4 separate regions of the Homo sapiens genome follow, and all the other regions are linked to region 2. Evidence: fine-mapped expression QTL. A gene starts in region 2. Each other region holds a variant in brackets. All regions are shown on one strand. Distances are from middle to middle.

Region 1 (5,148 bases), 62 kb before region 2:
GGCAGGAGAATCTCTTGAACCCGGGGGGTGGAGGTTGCAGTGAGCCAAGATCACGCCCACTGCACTCCAGCCTGGGCAACAGAGCGAGACTCTGTCTCGAAAAAAAAAAAAATGCCACTACAAATATCCTTGTTCATCTGCCTCTCCTCACATGTGTGCATGTTTCTCTAGGCACAAATGGAACTGCCGTGTCAGAGGGTACTCATATTTTCAATTTAGGTGGAAACCACCAAATGCCCTCAGGAAACACTGTGGCAACTAACACTTTCCCAAGCCTGGAGGAGGCCTGCTTCCTCCTACCCTGGGCCACAGGAAATCAGCAAGCTTTCCTCCCTGACTCAAATCTTGATTAACCATTGGATTGCACCTACCACAACAGAACATGATAAGAGACCATACAAGAGTCTAGAATAAGAGAAAGAAACTACATTTTAAAAAATTGTTATTTTCCACATTTTTAGAAATCATTAGCAAAAAAATAATTCTAGACAACTTCCTGTCAGTGCCTCAAAAGCCTCCTTCCACTGTGACACTTGTCCGGGGAGCCCCAGAGGACTGCTGGGAAATCCATCTCAAGAAAATAGTCAGGAGATGAGAAACTGCCCCCAAACAGCCCCAAACCACATCTGAGCTGCCCAGACAGACCTCTCTGCAGCATATGGGATTGACTGCCCAAAAGGGGTGGAACTCACAGAGTTCATCAAAGGAACATGTCGTGACTTTCTGCATGGAGTAGCGAGGCCTTCAGCCTCCCTACCCCAGAGCCCAGGGGATGCTTCTGGGGCCCAGTCACCAGAAATAAATAAATAAATAAAATAATAATCTGTCTGTTCCAATGGCCTCAATACCCAGTAGGAAAAGGTGCCCCCTCTCAAACTGATGAGGAAGACTAGAGTTTGGATGAGATTTGAAACTCTGCAAAAGCCTTGGGTTCAATTTAAACCCCACTTCCACCACTGGTCTCACTGAGGGGCGTGAGACAAGTCACTTCAGCTTGCCCTCAGTTTTCTCAGCTGTAAATGGGAATGATAATACTGAATTCGTATGGTTGGACTGTCACAAGAAACAAGCAGGAGACTGCTGTGGTTAAGAACTCAAGATCCTGTAATCCCAGCACTTTGGGAGGCCGAGGCGGGCGGATCACGAGGTCAGGAGATTGAGACCATCCTGGCTAACACAGTGAAACCCCATCTCTACTAAAAATACAAAAAAATTAGCCAGGTGTGGTGGTGGGCGCCTGTAGTCCCAGCTGCTCGGGAGGCTGAGGCAGAAGAATGGCATGAACCCGGGAGGTGGAGCTTGTAGTGAGCCGAGATTGCACCACTGCACTGCAGCCTGGGCGACAGAGCAAGACTCCGTCTCAAAAACAAAAACAAAAAAAAAACTCATGATGTCGGCTCAGGGAGATCTGACTCAGAATTCCAGCTCTGACACTTGGTAATTCCAACTGAGATCCTAGGCCAAACTCAGAGCCAGCTTTCCTCATCTGCAGATGAATATAATGACTCTATCATGGAAAAATTGAGATGATTTAGGTAGATAATGTATGGAAAGTATTTAACACAAAGTCAGGCTAGGTTGTTATATTTTTATTCTTTTTTGAGAGAGGGTCTCACTCTGTCACCCAGGCTGGAGTGCAGTGGTGCAATCTTGGCTCACCGCAACCTCTGTCTCCTGGGTTCAAGCGATTCTCCTGCCTCAGCCTCCCAAGTAGCTGGGATTACAGGTGTGTGCCACTACGCTTGGCTAATTTTTGTATTTTTAGTAGAGACAGGGTTTCGCCATGTTGCCCAGGCTGGTCTCGAACTCCCAGCCTCAAGTGATCCGCCCGCCTTGGCCTCCTCCAAAGTGCTGGGATTAGAGGTGTGAGCCACCACACCCAGCCAGGTTGTTATATTTTTTAAATGACTGTGTATATCAGATCTTTGGCCTACAAAATGGAAATTGTTTTTATTATAGAAACTTGTTTAAAAGGGCTGAAATTAACTTTTATCAATTTGAGGAAAATCCCTAATGAATTGCCTGATATATAGAGAAGTGCTTTCTCTTTTATACAAGTGCTTTCTATAAACATTCCAAAATCTTTTTTTTTTTTTTTTTTTTGAGATGGAGTCTCGCTCTGTCACCCAGGCTGGAGTGCAGTGGCATAATCTTGGTTCACTGCAACCTCTGCCTCCCAGGTTCAAGTGATTCTCCTGCCTCAGCCTCCCGAGTAGCTGGGATTACAGGCACATGCGACCACACCTGGATAATGTTGGGGGTTTTTTGTAAGTTTTTTCTTTTCTTTTTTTTTAATAGAGACAGGGTTTCACCATGTTGGCCAGGCTGGTCTTGAACTCCTGGTCTCAAATGATCCACCCACATCAGTCTCCCAAAGGCTGTGATCACAGGCATGAGCCACCGCACCAAGCCCCAGATGCTATTATCATGAAAAAGCAATGGTTGGCTGGCAGGTGGGGATGGGAGGTTAAAGCTGCTTTGTGGGGATGCAAATGCAACCTTGTACCGGGCCTCATTTGCATGTGTAAAACTAGCTAGAATTGAGGTCGTTGCCCTCTCTACAGAGCTGTGAGGCCCAAATATACCTCCCAGCCAGATGTGACAAGTTCCCTTACCAGGTAAACCGGGCTTCGGTTGTTATCCATTGCAGGGATGCCCGTGAGGACCTCGGCCAACACCTGGAGAGAACAGAACGTGAGTTAGCATGGTTCAGACGCTCGTGCACACAGCCAGGCAGCAGATTCTGTCTTCTCTTCTCAGTTCTGAGCTCCAGGTGCAGCTCTGCCATTGCCAGCAGACACACCTGCCCAAAATCTGGAACATGGGAATATCACTAAACACCTCCTCCAATTAAAGATGCCACCAAGCTGCCAGTGGAAGGTTGTAATTAATTGATAGCCAGGCAGAGAAGATGGTTTTCAAAAATTCATGTGTGTGTGTGTTTATATGTATTACCATAAGATATATATAGGTATAGATAAATATAGATACACACACACGTATATATACACTATTTTTTAAAGATTGTTTCATTTAAAAATCCTTCAGCTGGCTGGGC[A/G]CGGTGGATCATGCCTGTAATCCCAGCACTTTGGGAGGCTGAGGTGGGCGGATCACGTGGTCAGGAGATCGAGACCATCCTGGCTAACACAGCGAAACCCCGTCTCTACTAAAGATACAAAAAAATGAGCCAGGCGCGGTGGCGGGTGCCTGTAGTCCCAGGTGCTTGGGAGGCTGAGGCAGGAGAATGGCGTGAACCTGGGAGGTGGATCTTGCAGTGAACTGAGATCGCACCACTGCACTCCAGCCTGGGCGACAGAGCAAGACTCCGTCTCAAAAAAAAAAAAAAACACCAAAAAACCTTCAGCTATGGCAAGCAGGCATTGCTCTGTGAATCTCAGGGAAGGAAAGACTCTGCATGCAGGCAGGTATCTATTCTAGACAAATCTTGCAGCATCCATAGCATGTTTCACTCACAGGCCTTTACTAACATTATTTATTCATTAGCGCATCCACTCGCAGAAGGAGCACAACCCTGTATACGTGTAAGTCACCACAAAATTGGCAAACCATGATATATGTCTTCATAAACAGGAAACTGCTTTGAACAGGGTTTCTCAGTAGAGACAATGCTATGATGGCTAAGGGCTCTACAGTCAGGCCTGAGTTCAAATTCTGACTCTGTTCCTTATATGCTCAGGTGATCTTTAGGCAAGTAACTAAAACCTGAGCCTCAGTGTCCTCATCTGTTAAATGGGGACTAGCAGTTGTGAATATTAAAGGTGTGAAGACCCCACACTTAGTGTGGAACCTCTCTCCCACAGCATCTCTCAAAGCAAGTCAGAATAGGGTCACATTTATAGCCAAGAATCCCTCCAAGCCTGGAGGAAGGAAAGGATAAAGGTTTTAAACCACCCAGGATTAATAACAGACTGGCAGTGACCAGAAAAGGGCAGCAGAGGGCATCACTGCTGCAAGTGGGACAGGAGCCAATTGAAAAGGGACTCCTGACAGGTCCCTGCCAGGAAGGGACAGAACAAGGGGAAATGAATAAACAAAGACTTCCTGTGCCCCTTTCACAGAGCAGGCTCTGAGCCAAGTCCTTTATAGAGGTCACTGAGCACTCACCAAAAAACACTGAGCAATGCACTGTGATCCCCACAGGAGGAATCAAAGTTCAAAAGCGTTATCAGTCAACCAGAGGCAGGGCTGAGCAAAAGGGTGGCAGGAGCCAGGAGGCATTCAATGAATGAATGGATGGATGGGTGGTAGATGGATGGATGGATGGATGGATGGATGGATGGATGGATGGATGGATGGATGGGTATGTGGGTGGGAGGGTGGGTGCATGGGTGGATGAATAGATGGATAGGTGGGAGGGTGAATGGATGGATGAGGAAGTCATCTGTGACGCTAACACACCAGTTAGAAGGTCAAGAGTAAACAGATATCAGAAGGAGGGTGTAAAGGTGGGAATAACAATAACCACAGTCATCATAATATTCTTGGTAGGTGCAGGGTGCAGGGTGCCATGCTCACCTGCTTATATACATTATCCCATTCATCTCCATGTGTATCGTTAGCCCCATCTTACAGAAGGCTTAACTGAGGCCCAGAGACAGAAGTGCTAGGTGTAAGTCACACAGCTGAAAGTAACTGAGCCGGGCCTAGGGGTTCTATCCCCCTGGTTCTTTTTTTTCTTTTTTTTTTTTTTTGAGACAGAATCTTGCTCTGTTGCCCAGGCTGGAGTGCAATGGCGCGATCTCGGCTTACTGCAACCTCTGCCTCCCAGGTTCAAGTGATTCTCCTGACTCAGCCTCCCAGGTAGCTGCGATTACAGGCACATGCCACCACACTCAGCTAATTTTTGTATTTTTAGTAGAGCCGGGGTTTCACCATGTTGGCCAGGTTGGTCTTGAACTCCTGACCTCAGGTGATCTGCCCACATCGGCCTCCCAAAGTACTGAGATTTTAGGCATGTGCCACCACTCCCTGCCCATCCCCCTGGTTCTTAAAGGAGAAGGAGCCTGGACTAGCCCTGCTGAGCTTCACTGAACAACTTGCAGTGGGGCTGAGGGAGGCAGAGGAACCAGCTGGGAGACACGGAGGTGCAGAATCTGGGGTTCTGGCTGAGGGCAGAGGTGACTCAGG
Region 2 (5,148 bases):
AAGCTGCTAGGGAGGCTGAAGCAGGAGAATGGCATGAACCCAGGAGGTGGAGCTTGCAGTGAGCCGAGATTGCGCCACTGCACTCCAGCCTGGGTGACAAAGCGAGACTCCGTCTCAAAAAAAAAAAAAAGAAACTAAGTATTGACGCATGCTACAACATGGATGAACCTCATGTTAGTTGAAACAAGTCAGTCACAGAGCACTATATATTATATGATTCCATTTATATGAAATGTCCAAAATAGGCAATGTCTAAAACTCAGGAAAATGGAAGGAGGGGATTGGAAGTTAACGGGTACAGAGTTTCTTCTTCGGGTGATTAAAATGTTCTAAGATTGATTGTGAAGATGGATACACAGCCCTGTGAATATACTAAATACCACTAAATTGTACTCCTGAAACAGGTGGATTGTATGGTATGTGAATATCTCAGTAAAGCTTTATTTTTTTTTTAAGTCATAGGTATGCCTTCTAATTGAATTTCCTAGAAACAGAAGTTGTTCTGGCATTTGTAACTGAGGGCTGGGCCAATGTGGAAAAAATGAGAGGGAGTCTCACACAAAGTTTGTTCACTGCCCAGGAAACATTCAAAGTAGTGAAGCCAGGTCCAGGAGCAGTGGCTCACGCCTGTAATCCCAGCACTTTGGGAGGCCAAAGCGGCCAAATCACATGAGGTCAGGAGTTCGAGACCAGCCTGGCCAACATGGCGAAACCCCATCTCTACTAAAAACATAAAAATTAGTGGGCGTGGTGGCACATGCCTGTAATCCCAGCTACTCGGGAGGCTGAGGCAAGAGAATCACTTGAATCCAAGAGGCGGAAGCTGCAGTGAGCCGAGATCTCGCCACTGCATTCCAGCCTGGGCCACAGAATGAGACTGTCTCAAAAAAATAAAAATGAAAAGAGAATATTACAACTTATGACTTATAAGAATATTTAACACTTAGGTGTCAGTGCTTTTATACAGTATTTTCATTCCTCACAACTTTATGAAGAAGCTATAATTATCATCTCCAGTTTACATACAGATTCAGAAGCTGAGGCTCAGAGAGGTTAACAAACTGGCCCAAAGTCATACAGCAAGAGCCTGGAATGCAGATCTCCACCTGGAAAGCAGAGACAACAGGCAAGCGGCCTCCCCGCAGAGTCCATGGCCCTCTCCGCCAGTCATCCGTCAGGCACCAACAAACAAAACATATGGAGGCTGTCTGAGTGCCTTCCCACGGAATTATCTAGAACTGTGCACCTTGCAATAGAGTGAAAGTAAGTGCTTGTGCTTAGGCCCCATTATACACACTGAATCTATTAGGACACATCTGATCTCAAAACAGGTTGATAGTCATAAATACTGTGATCAAAACAATGTACACTAAAAGTAAATATCTGATTTTAAAACTATAATGGTAAAGTACATTTAATCACAAATATGATAAATAGGCTGGGCACAGTGGCTCACGCCTGTAATCCCAGCACTTTGGGAGGCCGAAGCAGGTGGATCGCCTGAGATCAAGAGTTCCGGAGGCCGGGCGCGGTGGCTCATGCCTGTAATCCCAGCACTTTGGGAGGCCCAGGGTGGGCGGATCACAAGGTCAGGAGATCCAGACCATCCTGGCTAACACGGTGAAACCCCGTCTCTACTAAGAATACAAAGTTAGCCGGGCGTGGTGGCGGGCGCCTGTAGTCCCAGCTACTCAGAAGGCTGAGGCAGGAGAATGGCGTGAACCCGGGAGGCGGAGCTTGCAACGAGCCTAGATCGCGCCACTGCACTCCAGCCTGGGCGACAGAGTGAGACTCCGTCTTAAAAAAAAAAAAAAAAAAAAAAAAAAATAGTTCAAGACCAGTCTGGCCAACATGGTGAAACCCGGTCTCTACTGAAAATACAAAAAATTAGCCAGGGTGGTAGCGGGCGCCTGTAATCCCAGCTACTCGGGAGGCCGAGGCAGGAAAATCGCTTGAATCCCAGAGGTGGAGGTTGCAGTGAGCCGAGACCGTGCCATTGCACTCCAGCCTGGGCAACAACAGCGAAACTCCGTTTCAATATATATATATATGTTAAATCATAGATCCTTCTAATATACACTAAAACTAAACACACCACACACACACACACACACACCCCCCCAAGAAGTGACAGCACCGTGGGTCCCTACAGGGTCGAGGCTCGCACTTTGCAGGCTGTTGTGGGCTGGATGAGAGGCCACCTGGGGACGTCACCGAGCCAGCAGCGCTGACAGGAGGGCCCCCGTACCCACCGTTCTCTGGACTCAGAGCGCAGTGGCGGCGGCCCCTGCTCGTCGACAGACGTCCTCAGAGACCACGCGGCACCTTCAGGTGACAGGCCGAGGTCCGCGGCGGACCCGGTCCAGGAGGCTCAGCTCGCACGCCCTCGGATCGGGACCCGCTGAACCCGGGTGCCCGAGGGAGCTTGGCGGCCGCTCCAGGCGGGATCGCTGGGGGCTCCGGTCGCCCTGGTCCCCTCCCCTCCCCGGGCCGCACTCACCGAACTCCATCCAGTCCCACTCGCTGAGCGCGTCCATGTTGCGGCACAGGTCGTCCAGCACCCAGGAGGGCAGCTGGTAGATGTAGCAGGCCATGGCACGCTACGGGGCCGGCTCCGGCGCGGGACGACTGGGTCGGACACTGCGGGCTGCGGCTTCTCTAGCCAGGGGCGGACCGGCGGGGAAGTGGGCGGGGCGGGAGGGCACCAGCGTCCCCAGCGGCCACGGGCGGCACGACGGCCCCGCCGGCTCCACCCCAGCGCCGGCCAGAGAATCGGAACTGCGAGGGGAAACTGAGGCCCTGGTGGGAGAAGGCCACACGGGAATTCTGCCGCAGCGGCAGGAGGCCTTCTGACCCCACTTCCATCGGCACTACACCATGCATCATGCGCTCATCAAATACTCCATTAATTACCTACTGTATGCCAGGCAACTCCCTAGGTGTTGGTAATACCTGAATAAGAAACCCTACAGCCGGGCGCGGTGGATCACTCCTGTAATCCCAGTACTTTGGGAGGCCGAGGCGGACGGATCACGAGGTCAGGAGTTCGAGACTAGCCTGGCCAATATGGTGAAACCCCGTCACTACTAAAAATACAAAAATTAGCCGGGCACGGTGGCGCACGCCTGTAGTCCCAGCTACCTGGGAGGCTGAGGCAGAAGAATCGCTTGAACCCTGGAGGCGGAGGTTGCAGTAAGCCCAGATTGTGCCCTTGTACTCCAGCCTGGGTGAAGAGTGAGGCTCTGTCTCAAAAAAAAAAAAAAAAAAAAAAAAAAGCCTACAAAAGCCCTTGCTTTCATAAGACTTACAATCTAGGTGTGGAGAGAAAGACTAACAATAAATAATAAATATAGTATGTTACAGAGTGTCTTAAAGGTAATAAGCACTATTGCAAAAAAAAAAAAAAAGGAAAAAAAGTTGGTTAAAGGGAATCAGGAATTCAGATTGAGCATGGGGAATATTCTATTAAATAGGGTAGTCAGGTAGACTTTACTATAGTAGCTAATATGTATCGTGCAGCTACTATGTGCCAGGCACTGTTGTAGGTGCTGGGAATACCTCTGAAGAGAAGGACAAAATCCTTGTCCTGGAGGGAGACAGACAACAAGCAATAAAAATAGGCAGATAAGCTATGTTGGAGAATGAAAGTAGAAGCCTGGGCAACATAGGAAGATCTTATCTCTACAAAAAACTTTTTTTTTTTGAGACGGAGTCTTGCTCTGTAGCCCAGGCTGGAGTGCAGTGGCGCAATCTTGGCTCACTGCAGCCTCTGCCTCCCAGGTCCCGGTTCAAGCAATTCTCCTGCCTCAGTCTCCCGAGTAGCTGGGATTACAGGCACGCGCCACCACGCCCAGCTAATTTTTGTATTTTTAGTAGAGACAGGGTTTCACTGTGTTGGCCAGGATGGTCTTGAACTCCTGACCTCGTGATCCGCCTGCCTCGGCCTCCCAAAGTGCTAGGATTACAGGCATGAGCCACCACGCCTGGCCTCTACAAAAAATTTTAAAATGAGCCAAGCATGGTAGTGTACACCTATAGTCCCAGCTACTCAGGAGGCTAAGGTGGTAGGATCTCTTGAACCCAGGAGTTTGAGGCTGCAGTGAGCTATGACTGCACTGCAGCCTGAGTGACAGAATGAGACCCTGTCTCTGAAAAAAAAAAAAAAAAAAAGAAAGAAAAGAAAGAATAAAAGTAGAGGGTGGTAAAAGGGAGTGCAAGTGGCCAATTGCATTATCTTAGATGATACTATTACTGGGAAAAAAGCAGAGTATGGTGCAGGGGACTGCAGGACAAACTGGATTATTAAATAGGGTATAAGGGGCTGGGTGCGGCGGCTCCCACCTATAACCCCAGCACTTTGGGAGGCAGAGGCAGGCAGATCGCTTGAGCCCAGGAATTCGAGACCAGCCTGGGAAACAGAGCAAGACCCTGTCTCTACAAAAATTAGCCAGGCATGGTGGCATGTGCCTGTAGTCCCAGGTACTTGGGAGGCTAAGGTAGGGGGATCACTTGAGCCCAGGAGGTGGAGATTGCAGTGAGCCAAGATTGCACCACTGCACTCCAGCCTGGGTGAGAGTGAGACCCTGTCTCTAAATAAACAAAGAGGGTACAAGGAACAGAATTTATAGTGTGTGTATACATATATATATATATATATATATATATATATATATATAAAATACACACACACATATATAAAATAGCTAGTATTTATTGAGCACTTACTATGTGTAGCCTTCACCTGGGTTACTTTACTTACTCCTTACAATGACCCTCTGAGGTAGGTATGGTTATAGCCCCATTCTACAAATAAGGAAACTAAGGCACAGAGAGGTTAAATAATATGGCTAAAATCATTTGAACCTAAGTATTCTGACCCCAGGCTCTCCATCACCACTGGCTAAAGTATATTGTAGATACAGATACATTTATCTGTATCTACAATGTACTTTGCAAAAATGATCTTATGTCATTCTTACAAGCCTATACTATAGATATTATTATCCCCATTTTACACAGAAGTAAATAGATTCCAAGAGGTTAGGCGAGGTCACGAAGGGCAGATAAGTAACTAGAGTAGGTACCACTGTATAGCTGTGGCCGTCAGCTATGGAGTAGCGCTGCAAAAGGAGGAAGCTGAAATCAAAG
Region 3 (5,148 bases), 48 kb before region 2:
GGACCATAAACCTCCCCAAGGCAGGGGCTCTGTATGCTTCTGGCGTACACTCCCTAGAGCCTAGAAAAGGGCTTAACTACCCACATTTTCTGAATCAATGAATGAAGGAGTGACTGCCGACTCCATGAAAGCACTAAGCCAAAGTGGAAAGGGAATCATACTTCCAGTTTTTATTAGATGTATGTGTGTGTGTGTATCTGTGTGTGTGTGTGTGTGTGTGTACACATGTGAGTATTCATATACATGTATGAATAGAGAAAGCATTAAAGAAAACATATCAAAATATGGGCCCAGCACAGTGGCTCACATCTAAAATCCCAACACTTTTGGAGGCCAAAGCAGGAGGATCACTTGAGCCAGGGAGTTCAAAACCAACCTGGGCAACATAGTGAGATCGTGTCTCTACAAAAAAAGTTTTAACAATTAAAAATGAAAATATATCAAAATATTAAAACAGTAGTGCTTATTTATAGGTGCTGTGAAAAAGTTTCTATTTTCTTATTTATAATTTTCTTTATTCCTTTTTAAATTTGTTTTACTTTTTAATTAATTAATTAATTTTTTTTTTTTTTTTTTTTTGAGACAGAGTCTCACTCTATTGCCCAGGCTGGAGTGCAGTGGTGCGATCTGGGCTCACTGCAACCTCCACTTTCTGGGCTCAAGTGATTCTCATGCCTCAGCCTCCTGAGTAGCTGGGACTACAGGTGCATGCCAACACACCAGGCTGATTTTTGTATGAATTTTTTTTAGTAGAGATGAGGTTTCGCCATGTTGGCCAGGCTGGTCTCAAACTCCTGACCTCAACTGATCTGCCCACCTCGGCCTCCCAAAGTGCTGGCATTACAGGTGTGAGCCACCATGCCTGGCCTTTATTTATTTTTGAGACAGAGACTCACTTTGTTGCCCCGGCTGGAGTGTAGTGTCATGATCTCGGCTCACTGCAACTTCTGCCTCCTGGGCTCAAGTGATCCTCCCATCAGCCTCCTGAGTAGCTGGGACTGCAGGCATACACCACCACACCCAGCTAATTTTTGTATTTTTTGTAGAGACGGGGTTTTGCCATGTTGCCCAGCTGATCTTGAACTCCTGGACTTAAGTGATCCACTCGCCTCAGCCTCCCAAAGTGCTGGGATTATAGGTGCGAGCCACCATGCCCAGCCAAAAAAAGTTTTTGTATATATATTTTTTTCAGTTGAGACAGGGTCTCGCTATGTTGCCCAAGCTGGTCTCAAACTCCTTGGCTCAAGGAATCCTCTTGCCTCAGCATCAAAGTTCTAGGATTACAGGCATAAACCACCATACCTGGTCAATTTTCTTTATTTTTTAACACTGGTTACAGAATGAACAGATACTCAATTTTCTTTATTTCTTAAAATACCCTACAATATAAGGCACAAGTGTTTCAGATGAAAAATAATTAAAAAAAAAAAAAGCACACACATGGCAGGGCACAGTGGCTCACACCTATAATCCCAACATCTTGGGAGGTCAAGGCAGGAGGATCACTTGAGCCCGGGAGCTCAACACCAGCCTGGTCAACATAGCAAGACCCTATCTCTACAAAAAAAAAAAAAAAAAAAAGCAAAAAATGAGCTGGGCGCACACCTGTAGTCCCAGCTTCTCAGAGGCTGAGGTGGGAGGATCACCAGCCCATGAGTTCAAAGCTGCAGTGATCTACAATCATTCCAAGGCCATTCCAGCCTGGGCAATAGAGCAAGACCCTAGCTCTTAAAAAAGAAAAAAAAGTCAGGCACGGTGGCTCACGCCTGTAATCCCAGCACTTTAGGAAGCCAAAGCAGAAAGATCACTTGAGGTCAGGAATTTGAGACCATCCTGGCCAACATGTCAAAACCCCGTCTCTACTAAAAATATGAAAATTAGCCGGGCCTGGTGGCGCACGCCTGTAATCCCAGCTACTCGGGAGGCTAAGGCACGAGAATCACCTGAACCTGGTAGGCAGAGATTGCAGTGAGCCGAGATCACGCCACTGCACTCCAGCCTGGGAGACAGAGCAAGACTCTGTCTCAAAAAACAAAAAAAGAAAAGAAAAGAAAAAAAAAAAGGAGAGAAGATTTATTCCCATGTGGAAGGAAGGAGTTGGAGTAAGCCAAGTTTCCTTTATAATTCTAATCTACACATAGAATTGCTACACAGGAGAAGAATGGACTCTGGAGCCAAACCAGGTAGATCCAAATCCTGGCTCTGCCACTCATTAGCTGTGTGACCTTGGATGAGACATTTAACCCCTCTGTGCCTCAATTTACCCATCTGTAAAATAATGTGATAATAGTAGCTACATTTATAGGGTTCTTGTAAGGACTAAATGAGTTTATATATAATAGAGTGCTTAAAACATGACTGGGCACACAGGAAGCACTATATAAAGGTTAGCTATCATTATTACTAAACAAAGGGGAGGCTTACCTAAGACAAATCTGCAACTCTGCCTGGAAGAATCTTTCGATTGATCCTGGACTTGAACAGGCTGTCTGTAGAGAAAGACATCAGAACATGAAGATCCCGCCCCACCCCTGCAGCCTCCACCCCCACTAGAAACCAAGAAGTGCTCACCTCTCTGAGCTTCTTGAAGACGAATGGCTTCCCGTGCCTGTGCCCTCTGTAGACGTCAGCAAAGGTCCCCTGGCTGATTTTGCGGTTTTGATTGAAGTCATCGGTTGCCTGGACCACGTCTGCCTCACTCCAGAAAAGGCTGTCTCCAGCCAAGCTCAAAAGTTTTTCCTGCTTAGGAATGGAGGTGCTGAAGTCCTGGAGACCCAGAGAGAAGAGATGGAGATTACTATGGAATCTCGTTTTCTCTGCTACCTCAAGGGACCTTGGAACACCAGAGATGGAGGGATGGAGGGGATCAACTTATCCAATGGAAACTGTAAAAAGGACATGGATAGGCCGGGCACGGTGGCTCACGCCTGTAATCCCAGCACTTTGGGAGGCCGAGGCGGGCGGATCACGAGGTCAGGAGATCAAGACCATCCTGGCTAACACAGTGAAACCCCGTCTCTACTAAAAAATACAAAAAAAAATTATCCAGGCGTGGTGGCGGGCGCCTGTAGTCCCAGCTACTC[G/A]GGAGGCTGAGGCAGGAGAATGGGGTGAACCCAGGAGGCGGAGCTTGCAGTGAGCCGAGATCGCGCCACTGCACTCCAGCCTGGGTGACAGAGCGAGACTCTGTCTCAAAAAAAAAAAAAAAAAAAGGACATGGATAGGCCCAAGCTCAAATCCCAGCTCCATCTGTATCTTGCTCTGTGACCTTGGGTGAGTTACTTAACCTCTCTGAGCCTCAATTTTTTCCATCAGCAAAAATGAAGGTAACAATAGTACCCCGAAGAGTAATTTTGAAGACTAAGATGTGAGTATTCCTGGCACATGGTTGATGTTTCCTTTATTTCAGTTTACAGAAGTAAGCACTGAGGAAATAAAACAGCTGAAGTGAGGTCCCACAGCTGGTCAGTGGCCGAGCTCAGCACTCTTGGTCTAATTCACAGCATAGATACTGGGGTTCCAGACTCCTGGGAAGTAGGATACAGGTTCATATAACCAAACCAGGGGTGTCCAATTTTTGACTTCCCTGGACCACACTGGAAGAAGAATTGTCTTGGGCCACACATAAAATACACTAATACTAATGATAGCTGATGAGCTTTAAAAAAAAAATTGCAAAAAAAACTCATAATGTTTTAAGAAACTTTACAAATTTGTGTTGGGCCACATTCAAAGCCATCCTGGGCTGCACACAACCATGGGCAAGTAAGACAAGCTTGCTTTAAACAGAATTCCAGAGACTGCATGTGTATATAAGCCTATAAAAAGAAGTTCTGTTTCCGTTTTTAATAACTTCTCTCTTTAAAACACATGTACGTAATTTTTTTTTTTTTTTTGAGACAGAGTCTCGTACTGTCACCCAGGCTGGAGTGCAGTGGTGTGATCTCGGCTCACTGCAAGCTCCGCCTCCCAGGTTCACGCCATTCTCCTTCCTCAGTCTCCCGAGCAGCTGGGACTACAGGCACCCACCACCCTGTCCGGCTAATTTTTTGTAATTTTTTTAGTAGAGATGAGGCCTCACCGTGTTAGCCAGGATGGTCTCCATCTCCTGACCTCGTGATCCGCCCGACTTGGCCTCCCAAAGTGCTGGGATTACAGGCACGAGCCACCGCGCCCGGCCTAAATTTCAATTTTTTTAAGTTACATATGCTCTTAACAGTTTTTGAAAATTAGTATCCATAACCCCATTATCCATTTAACTGCTATTAAAGTTAGTGTATTTCCGGCCAATTAGATATACTAGGATTTATTTAACAAAACTGGTATCATGCCACACACATAGTTTTGATTTCTTTTTGAGACAGGGTCTCACTTTGACACCAAGGCTGGAGTGCAATGGCATGATGTCAGCTCACCGCAGCCTCAACCTCCCAGGCTCAAGGGATCCTTTCATCTCAGCGCCCCCAAGTAGCTGGGACTACAGGTGTGTGCCACCACGCCTGGCTTATTTTTTAAACTTTTTTTTTTGGCGAGGCCAGGCACAGTGATTCACTGCTTGTAATCTCACCATATGTGGGAGGCCAAGGCAGGCGGATCCTCTGAGGCCAGGAGTTCAAGACCAGCCTGGGCAATATGGTGAAACCGTGTCTCTACTAAAAATACAAAAATTAGCCAGGCGTGGTGGCACACACCTATAATCCCGGATACTCAGGAGGCTGAGGCAGGAGAATCGCTTAAACTGGGGAACCAGAGGTTTCAGTGAGTCGAGACAGCCTGGGCAACAGAGGGAGACTTTGTCTCAAAAAAACTTTTTGGCCAGGCACGGTGGCTCATGCCTGTAATCCCAGCACTTTGGGATGCTGAGGTGGGCGGATCACATGAGGCCAGGAGTTCAAGACCAGCCTGGCCAACATGGCGAAACCCTGTCTCCACTAAAAATACAAAAAAAAATTAGCCAAACATGCTGGCATGTGCATGTAATCCCAGCTACTCAGGAGGCTGAGGCAGGAGAATAGCTTGAACCTGGGAGGCAGAGGTTACAGTGACCAAGATCGTGCCACTGCACTCCAGCCTGGGCAATGGAGCGAGACTCCTCAAAAAAAACACAAAAACAAAAAAAACTTTTTTGTAGACACAGGATCTCACACTGTT
Region 4 (5,148 bases), 26 kb before region 2:
TCTGGATATCCGTGAAAGCTGCCTTGCTGAGGCTGAGAACCCACAGTGATGAGGGCTGAGTCCCAGATACAAGGAGGAAATGGGGGAGGGGCAGAAGCGCTTCTCTGTGCCCCTGTCATGGTTCACCAGAGCTGGTTGCCAGGCATGATTTCTTTTTCTCTCTGATTTGTTTTCGGAATGCCTGTGCTCTTCCTAATGAGCATGAATCACTGATGCCACGGAAGGCAAATGAACTCCCGCAGTCTGGAGTGTGTCCTGCAGTCAGGCTCACCAGCAGGGGGATCCTCCTAAGCCTTGGCTTCCTCATCCGACAAATGAGATGTGGAAGTGGACCCCCGACCCGAGACCAGCCATGAGGATAAAAAAATTAACACCCAGCAGATCTAAGCTACCATCATTTGCTATAGTCTCGCTCTGTTGCCCAGGCTGGAGTACAGTGGCACGATCTCTGCTCATTACAACTTCTGCCTCCTGGGTTCAAGCGATTGTCCTACCTCACCCTCCCGAGTAGCTGGGATTACAGGCAGACACCATCACGCCCGGCTAATTTTTGTATTTTTAGTAGAGACGGGGTTTTGCCATATTGGCCAGGCTGGTCTCGAACTCCTGACCTCAGGTGATCCGTCCGCCTTGGCCTCCTACTACTGTTATTATAATGACCACTCTAACTCTAGGTCAGGCTTTTTTTCCTAAGTTCTTGCCCATATCTGTGGCCTATTTAATTCAGGTAACAGCTCTGGGGGATAATTGCTACCAAGTATAAGGTAGTTGTCTTATATCTGAAGAAAGCGAAGCCTAGAATGCAGATTTATTTATTATGTGCTTGTTTATGGCCCAGTTCCTTCAGGAGAAAGGACTAAAGGATGTTTATGGGTGCTGGGCCTTTGGCTGACGGGGCCTGGGCCGTCACACTAGCTGCCTGAGAACATTTCACACGGTGGCAAATCCAGGAGCTGTTGGAGCAGAGGGGACTCAGAGCTGGCAACAAGGTCTTTCCTGGGTGAGCACACTCTGGAAATTCCCCCCAACCCTTCACGCCCGTCAAACTACACAGTAATTTGTTCTTAGGCTGACTCATGTGGCCAGAATAGATCCCTTCCAGAACAAACAAAAGTGATTCAGCTATAACTAAAGCACCCTCGTGCCAGCTGGCTCTATCAGGGACAAACACAGCTTTCCGCGCCCTCTCTTTTCCTTTCCCTCCTAATCCCTGGGTTTGGCCCTCCAGGCCATACACAGTCACACACAACACACAACACACACACACACACACACACACACACACACACACACTCCCAACTCAAGCTAGACCTGAAATGAGGCAAACCTGAGAGCACAGCCTGCCTTCCTAATTGTGCGATCCCTGGTTCTCCACTGAACTTGTACTCCACCTGCTGCTGAAATGACTCATTCTTTCTCATTCATTCATTCATTCATTTTGTGTTAGGGAATGGGGAATCCTTTATCAAAACTGCCGTAATACTGACATTAAGCTAGTTAAATAAAAGACATCTAATTATAAACTGGGAGGTGCTCTATGCTGAAAACAAACTCGAGGGAGGGGTGCCTGATGGACCTACTTCCATAGGCTGGCCAGGAAAAGCTGCCATGAGAAGGGGCCACATATGCAGACACCCAGAGGATGAAAAGGACTAGCATGGAAGAATGTAGGGAAGCTGGGGAGAGACAGCATTCCAAGGAGAGGGAACACGTGTGCAAAGGTCCTTAGGCAGCAAACACTTGGCATATCCCCGCAAGTGAAGGATGACCGTAGTGGCTGAGGGGAATGACTGAGGGGGAAAGTGGTAGAGGTGAGGTTGAAGAGCCGGGCAAAGGTAGACCATGCAGGGCCTTGTAGGCCACAGTTAGGCAGAACCTTACTGTAAGCGCCCTGGAACTGAGGTAACCTGTAGCTGAGAGAGTACTTACCAAATAACCATCTGCTCTGTCTCATACTCCTGCCTCCTTAGCAATTAGGCTGGGCGTCACGACTGGTTCTAGCCAGTGGATTTTTTTTTTTTT[G/TG]AGACAGATTCTCGCTCTGTTGCCCAGGCTGGAGTGCAGTGGCGCGATCTCGGCTCACTGCAAGCTCCGCCTCCCGGGTTCAAGCAATTCTCCTGCCTCAGCCTCTTGAGTAGCTGGGACTACAGGCACCCGCCACCACGCCCAGCTAATTTTTTTTTATTTTTAGTAGAGACGGGGTATCACCATGTTAGCCAGGATGGTCTCGATCTCCTGACCTTGTGATCCGCCGGCCTCGGCCTCCCAAAGTGCTGGGATTACAGGCTTGAGCCACCGCGCCCGGCCTAGCCAGTGGATTTTAAGTGAAGATGCTATCTATCACTTCCTGGACGAAGCACTTAACAGCTAGTGAGCCTCTTCCAACCCTCTCTTCCCCAGCCACAGTGACTTTGGAAGCCACATGTTCTAGATGACTTAGCTGGCTACAAGAATGCAGGAGGCTGCATGACCCTTACTGGACTTCAGGTGAGTGGGAAATCAATATTTGTTGCGTTGAGGAACTAGATTTCAAGGTTTATCTGATACCGCAGCATAACCAAGCCTATCCTGGCTAATGCATCATCTGAGTATGTGTCCAAAACTTGCAACTGGAGGAGACTAGTTGTAAGAGCTAAGCATCTAGCAGGAGTTCAATAAAGGATGGTTCACTTCACCCTAGCTCTTACCCTTCCTCTCTGAAACACTGGGGACTGGCTTAGAGGCATTCCACACTCTGTTCATTCTAACACCACTCTCAAGAGACCAACAGTGATTAAAGCCTTGCTTTTTTCCAATGGAATAATGAATGCATGGAAGGAAAAGGTCAAGTGACCTGTCCTTAGCCACTCAGCAATTAACTTTAAGAAAACCTCTAGCTGGGCGTGGTGGTGGGCGCCAGTAGTCCCAGCTACTCGGGAGGCTGAGGCAGGATAATTGCTTGAGTCCACGAGGCAGAGGTTGCAGTGAGCCAAGCTCATGCCACTGCACTTCAGCCTGGACAACAGAGTGAGACTCTGTCTCACAAAAAAAAAAAAAAAAAGAAACAAAGAAAACCTCACCATCTCGTATGCTTTGAACCTTCCCAGTCTACAAGAAAAGTAGATAGGGCAATGTCTTTACCCATTTTCCAGATGGGGCAAGTGATGATGCAATCTAGTAACCTACCAAGAAGCGGGTAAGGTCAGGCAGACCTGAATTCCCATGTTGGCCTCATCACTATGGGCTATGTGGCCTTGGGAAATTACTTAATCTCTGAGCCTCAGTTTCCTCTTCTATAAAATAGGGATAATAAGAGTTGTGAGAAAAGATGCTTACCTGGCACATATCAGGTGCTAAACACAAGCTATTACTAGAACCCAGGTGCTCTGACCCCTGGCCTGTGGTTTTGGCCCAAAACAGTGTCGCCTCCAGTGGCAAGTCTGCAGTGGGCAGGGTCTGGATGTAGGCATGTTCTGTTGTGCCCTAGCAGCTGGAAAGGGGCGGAGGCAGGGCAGCCTTCCAAGAGAGCAGACACACAAGCCCTGTCTGGACCTGGCACAGCCCGGCCCCTTCCGGAGAGGAAGGGTTCATTCTCTTCTGTTTCATTTTACATAGCAGCCCCAAATTTTCCACTCAATGAGAGCCCAGCTCCAGGAAGGAAATGACTCTGGCCGAGATGCCAAACCCAAAGTTAGAAACTGTCAAGAGTTGCACAACCAAGAAGAAACTGCATGAAAATTGTGAAACTCAAGACTTCAGGTAGATAGTAGCAACAGATGGGAAGAGAAAACCTTGGTCACTTCCCAAATCCCTTCGGATTCCTGAAGTGTCTTCCTGTCCTACTCAGTTGACATCTGGAACCTCACAGGCCCAGCCCCCCAGTCCATATAGTGGCCAAAACAGGGGATACTCCCAGGTGGAAGCCCTCCAACGTCTTCCCTTCACTCTCCGGTGAAAGCAAACTCTTGGCGGTAGCCTGCATGGCACTGGGTGGCCTGACCCTGCCCTGTCCCCAGCCTCAGCCCACCCCCAGGCCTTTGTACATGCTGCTCCCCCCGGCTAGATATGTGTGTGTCGTCCTTCACTTCTTGGTCCACTATTCCTTACGGAGGAGGCTCAAGTTTCACTGCCTCAGAGAAACTTCCCCTGATGAGATCAAATCCTCTCATCTTGCACTCTCCTACCTGCCCTCCCCACCTGACCTACATTTATCCTTTGAGCACTCATACTGCAGTGGGTGACATGCATCTGTGTGTTAGCTTCTTATAATTCATCTCCCACTGGACTGTAAGCTCCATGAGGCCTGAGACCTTGGCTGTGTTTTCATGGTTGCATCCCCAGCATCTAGCGCACAGTAGGCACTCAGCAAATGTATTTTTAGGCCAGGCGCAGTGGCTCATGCCTATAATCCCAATATTTTGGGAGGCCAAGGCGGGTGGATCACTGAGGTCAGGGATTCAAGACCAGCCTGGCCAACACGGCAAAACCCTGTCTCTACTAAAAATACAAAAATTAGGCCAGGCACAGTGGTTCACACCCGTAATCCCAGCACTTTGGGAGGCCAAGGCAGGGGGATCACCTGAGGTCGGGAGTTTGAGACCAGCCTGACCAACATGGAGAAACCCTGTCTCTACTAAAAATACAAAATAAGCCGGGCGTGGTGGCGCATGCCTGTAATCCCAGCTACTCGGGAGGCTCAGGCAGGAGAATCGCTTGAACCCGGGAGGCAGAGGTTGTGGTGAGCCGAGATTGCGCTATTGCACTCCAGCCTGGGCAACAAGAGCGAAACTCCATTTCAAAAATAAATAAATACATAAATAAATAAATAAAATTACAAAAATTAGCCAGGCGTGGTAGTGCATGCCTGTAATCCCAGCTACTCAGAGGTTGAGGCACAAGGATCGCTTGAACCCGGGAGGCGGAGGTTGCAGTGAGCCGAGATCGAGCCATGGCACTCCAGCCCAGGTGACAGCGTGAGACTCCATCTCAAAAAGACAAAAAATGTATTTTTAGTTCCTTATTAACTCTCTTGTCCAGCTCCTGCATATCTAAATCCCTGTGGCAGGGCAGAGGGAGAATTTCACCTCACAGGCCAGTGCACCCAGTTTCCAGACTCCACCCTCAGAGCCAGAGCCATCTGCTCCCCACCATCTACAGGCTCAGCACCTAACC

Direction of the effects. Positions count from the first base shown, and alleles are read on the strand shown. Sizes are in standard deviations (SD) of each study's normalised expression. Not every link is listed here.
With allele G in place of TG in region 4, the expression in lymphoblastoid cells of the gene that starts at base 2,630 in region 2 is higher (small effect, 0.30 SD a copy in GEUVADIS).

The links.
Region 1: its variant is fine-mapped to the expression of IRAK2 in whole blood (TOPMed, PIP above 0.99).
Region 3: its variant is fine-mapped to the expression of IRAK2 in fibroblasts (GTEx, PIP 0.95).
Region 4: its variant is fine-mapped to the expression of IRAK2 in lymphoblastoid cells (GEUVADIS, PIP 0.95).

What each region holds. Positions count from the first base shown.
Region 1 is chr3:10,223,901-10,229,048 of GRCh38, reverse strand. IRAK2 (interleukin 1 receptor associated kinase 2) reads right to left here. Exons shown (of 13, transcript NM_001570.4): 10 at 2,616-2,678. Among named protein-coding and RNA genes, the nearest start is that of TATDN2, 22 kb to the left of the region's middle. RefSeq lists a silencer at 2,330-2,624 and enhancers at 2,738-2,787, 2,963-3,745. The variant A/G (reference allele first, on the strand shown) is at 3,059.
Region 2 is chr3:10,162,401-10,167,548 of GRCh38, reverse strand. It overlaps IRAK2 (interleukin 1 receptor associated kinase 2), which reads right to left and starts at 2,630. Exons shown (of 13, transcript NM_001570.4): 1 at 2,501-2,630. The coding sequence starts at 2,594. RefSeq lists silencers at 2,316-2,465, 2,666-2,795.
Region 3 is chr3:10,210,825-10,215,972 of GRCh38, reverse strand. IRAK2 (interleukin 1 receptor associated kinase 2) reads right to left here. Exons shown (of 13, transcript NM_001570.4): 5 at 2,572-2,766; 6 at 2,425-2,489. Among named protein-coding and RNA genes, the nearest start is that of TATDN2, 35 kb to the left of the region's middle. The variant G/A (reference allele first, on the strand shown) is at 3,084.
Region 4 is chr3:10,188,169-10,193,316 of GRCh38, reverse strand. All of the region lies in intron 2 of IRAK2 (interleukin 1 receptor associated kinase 2), which reads right to left. Among named protein-coding and RNA genes, the nearest start is that of IRAK2, 26 kb to the right of the region's middle. RefSeq lists enhancers at 826-1,135, 3,635-3,714. The variant G/TG (reference allele first, on the strand shown) is at 2,023.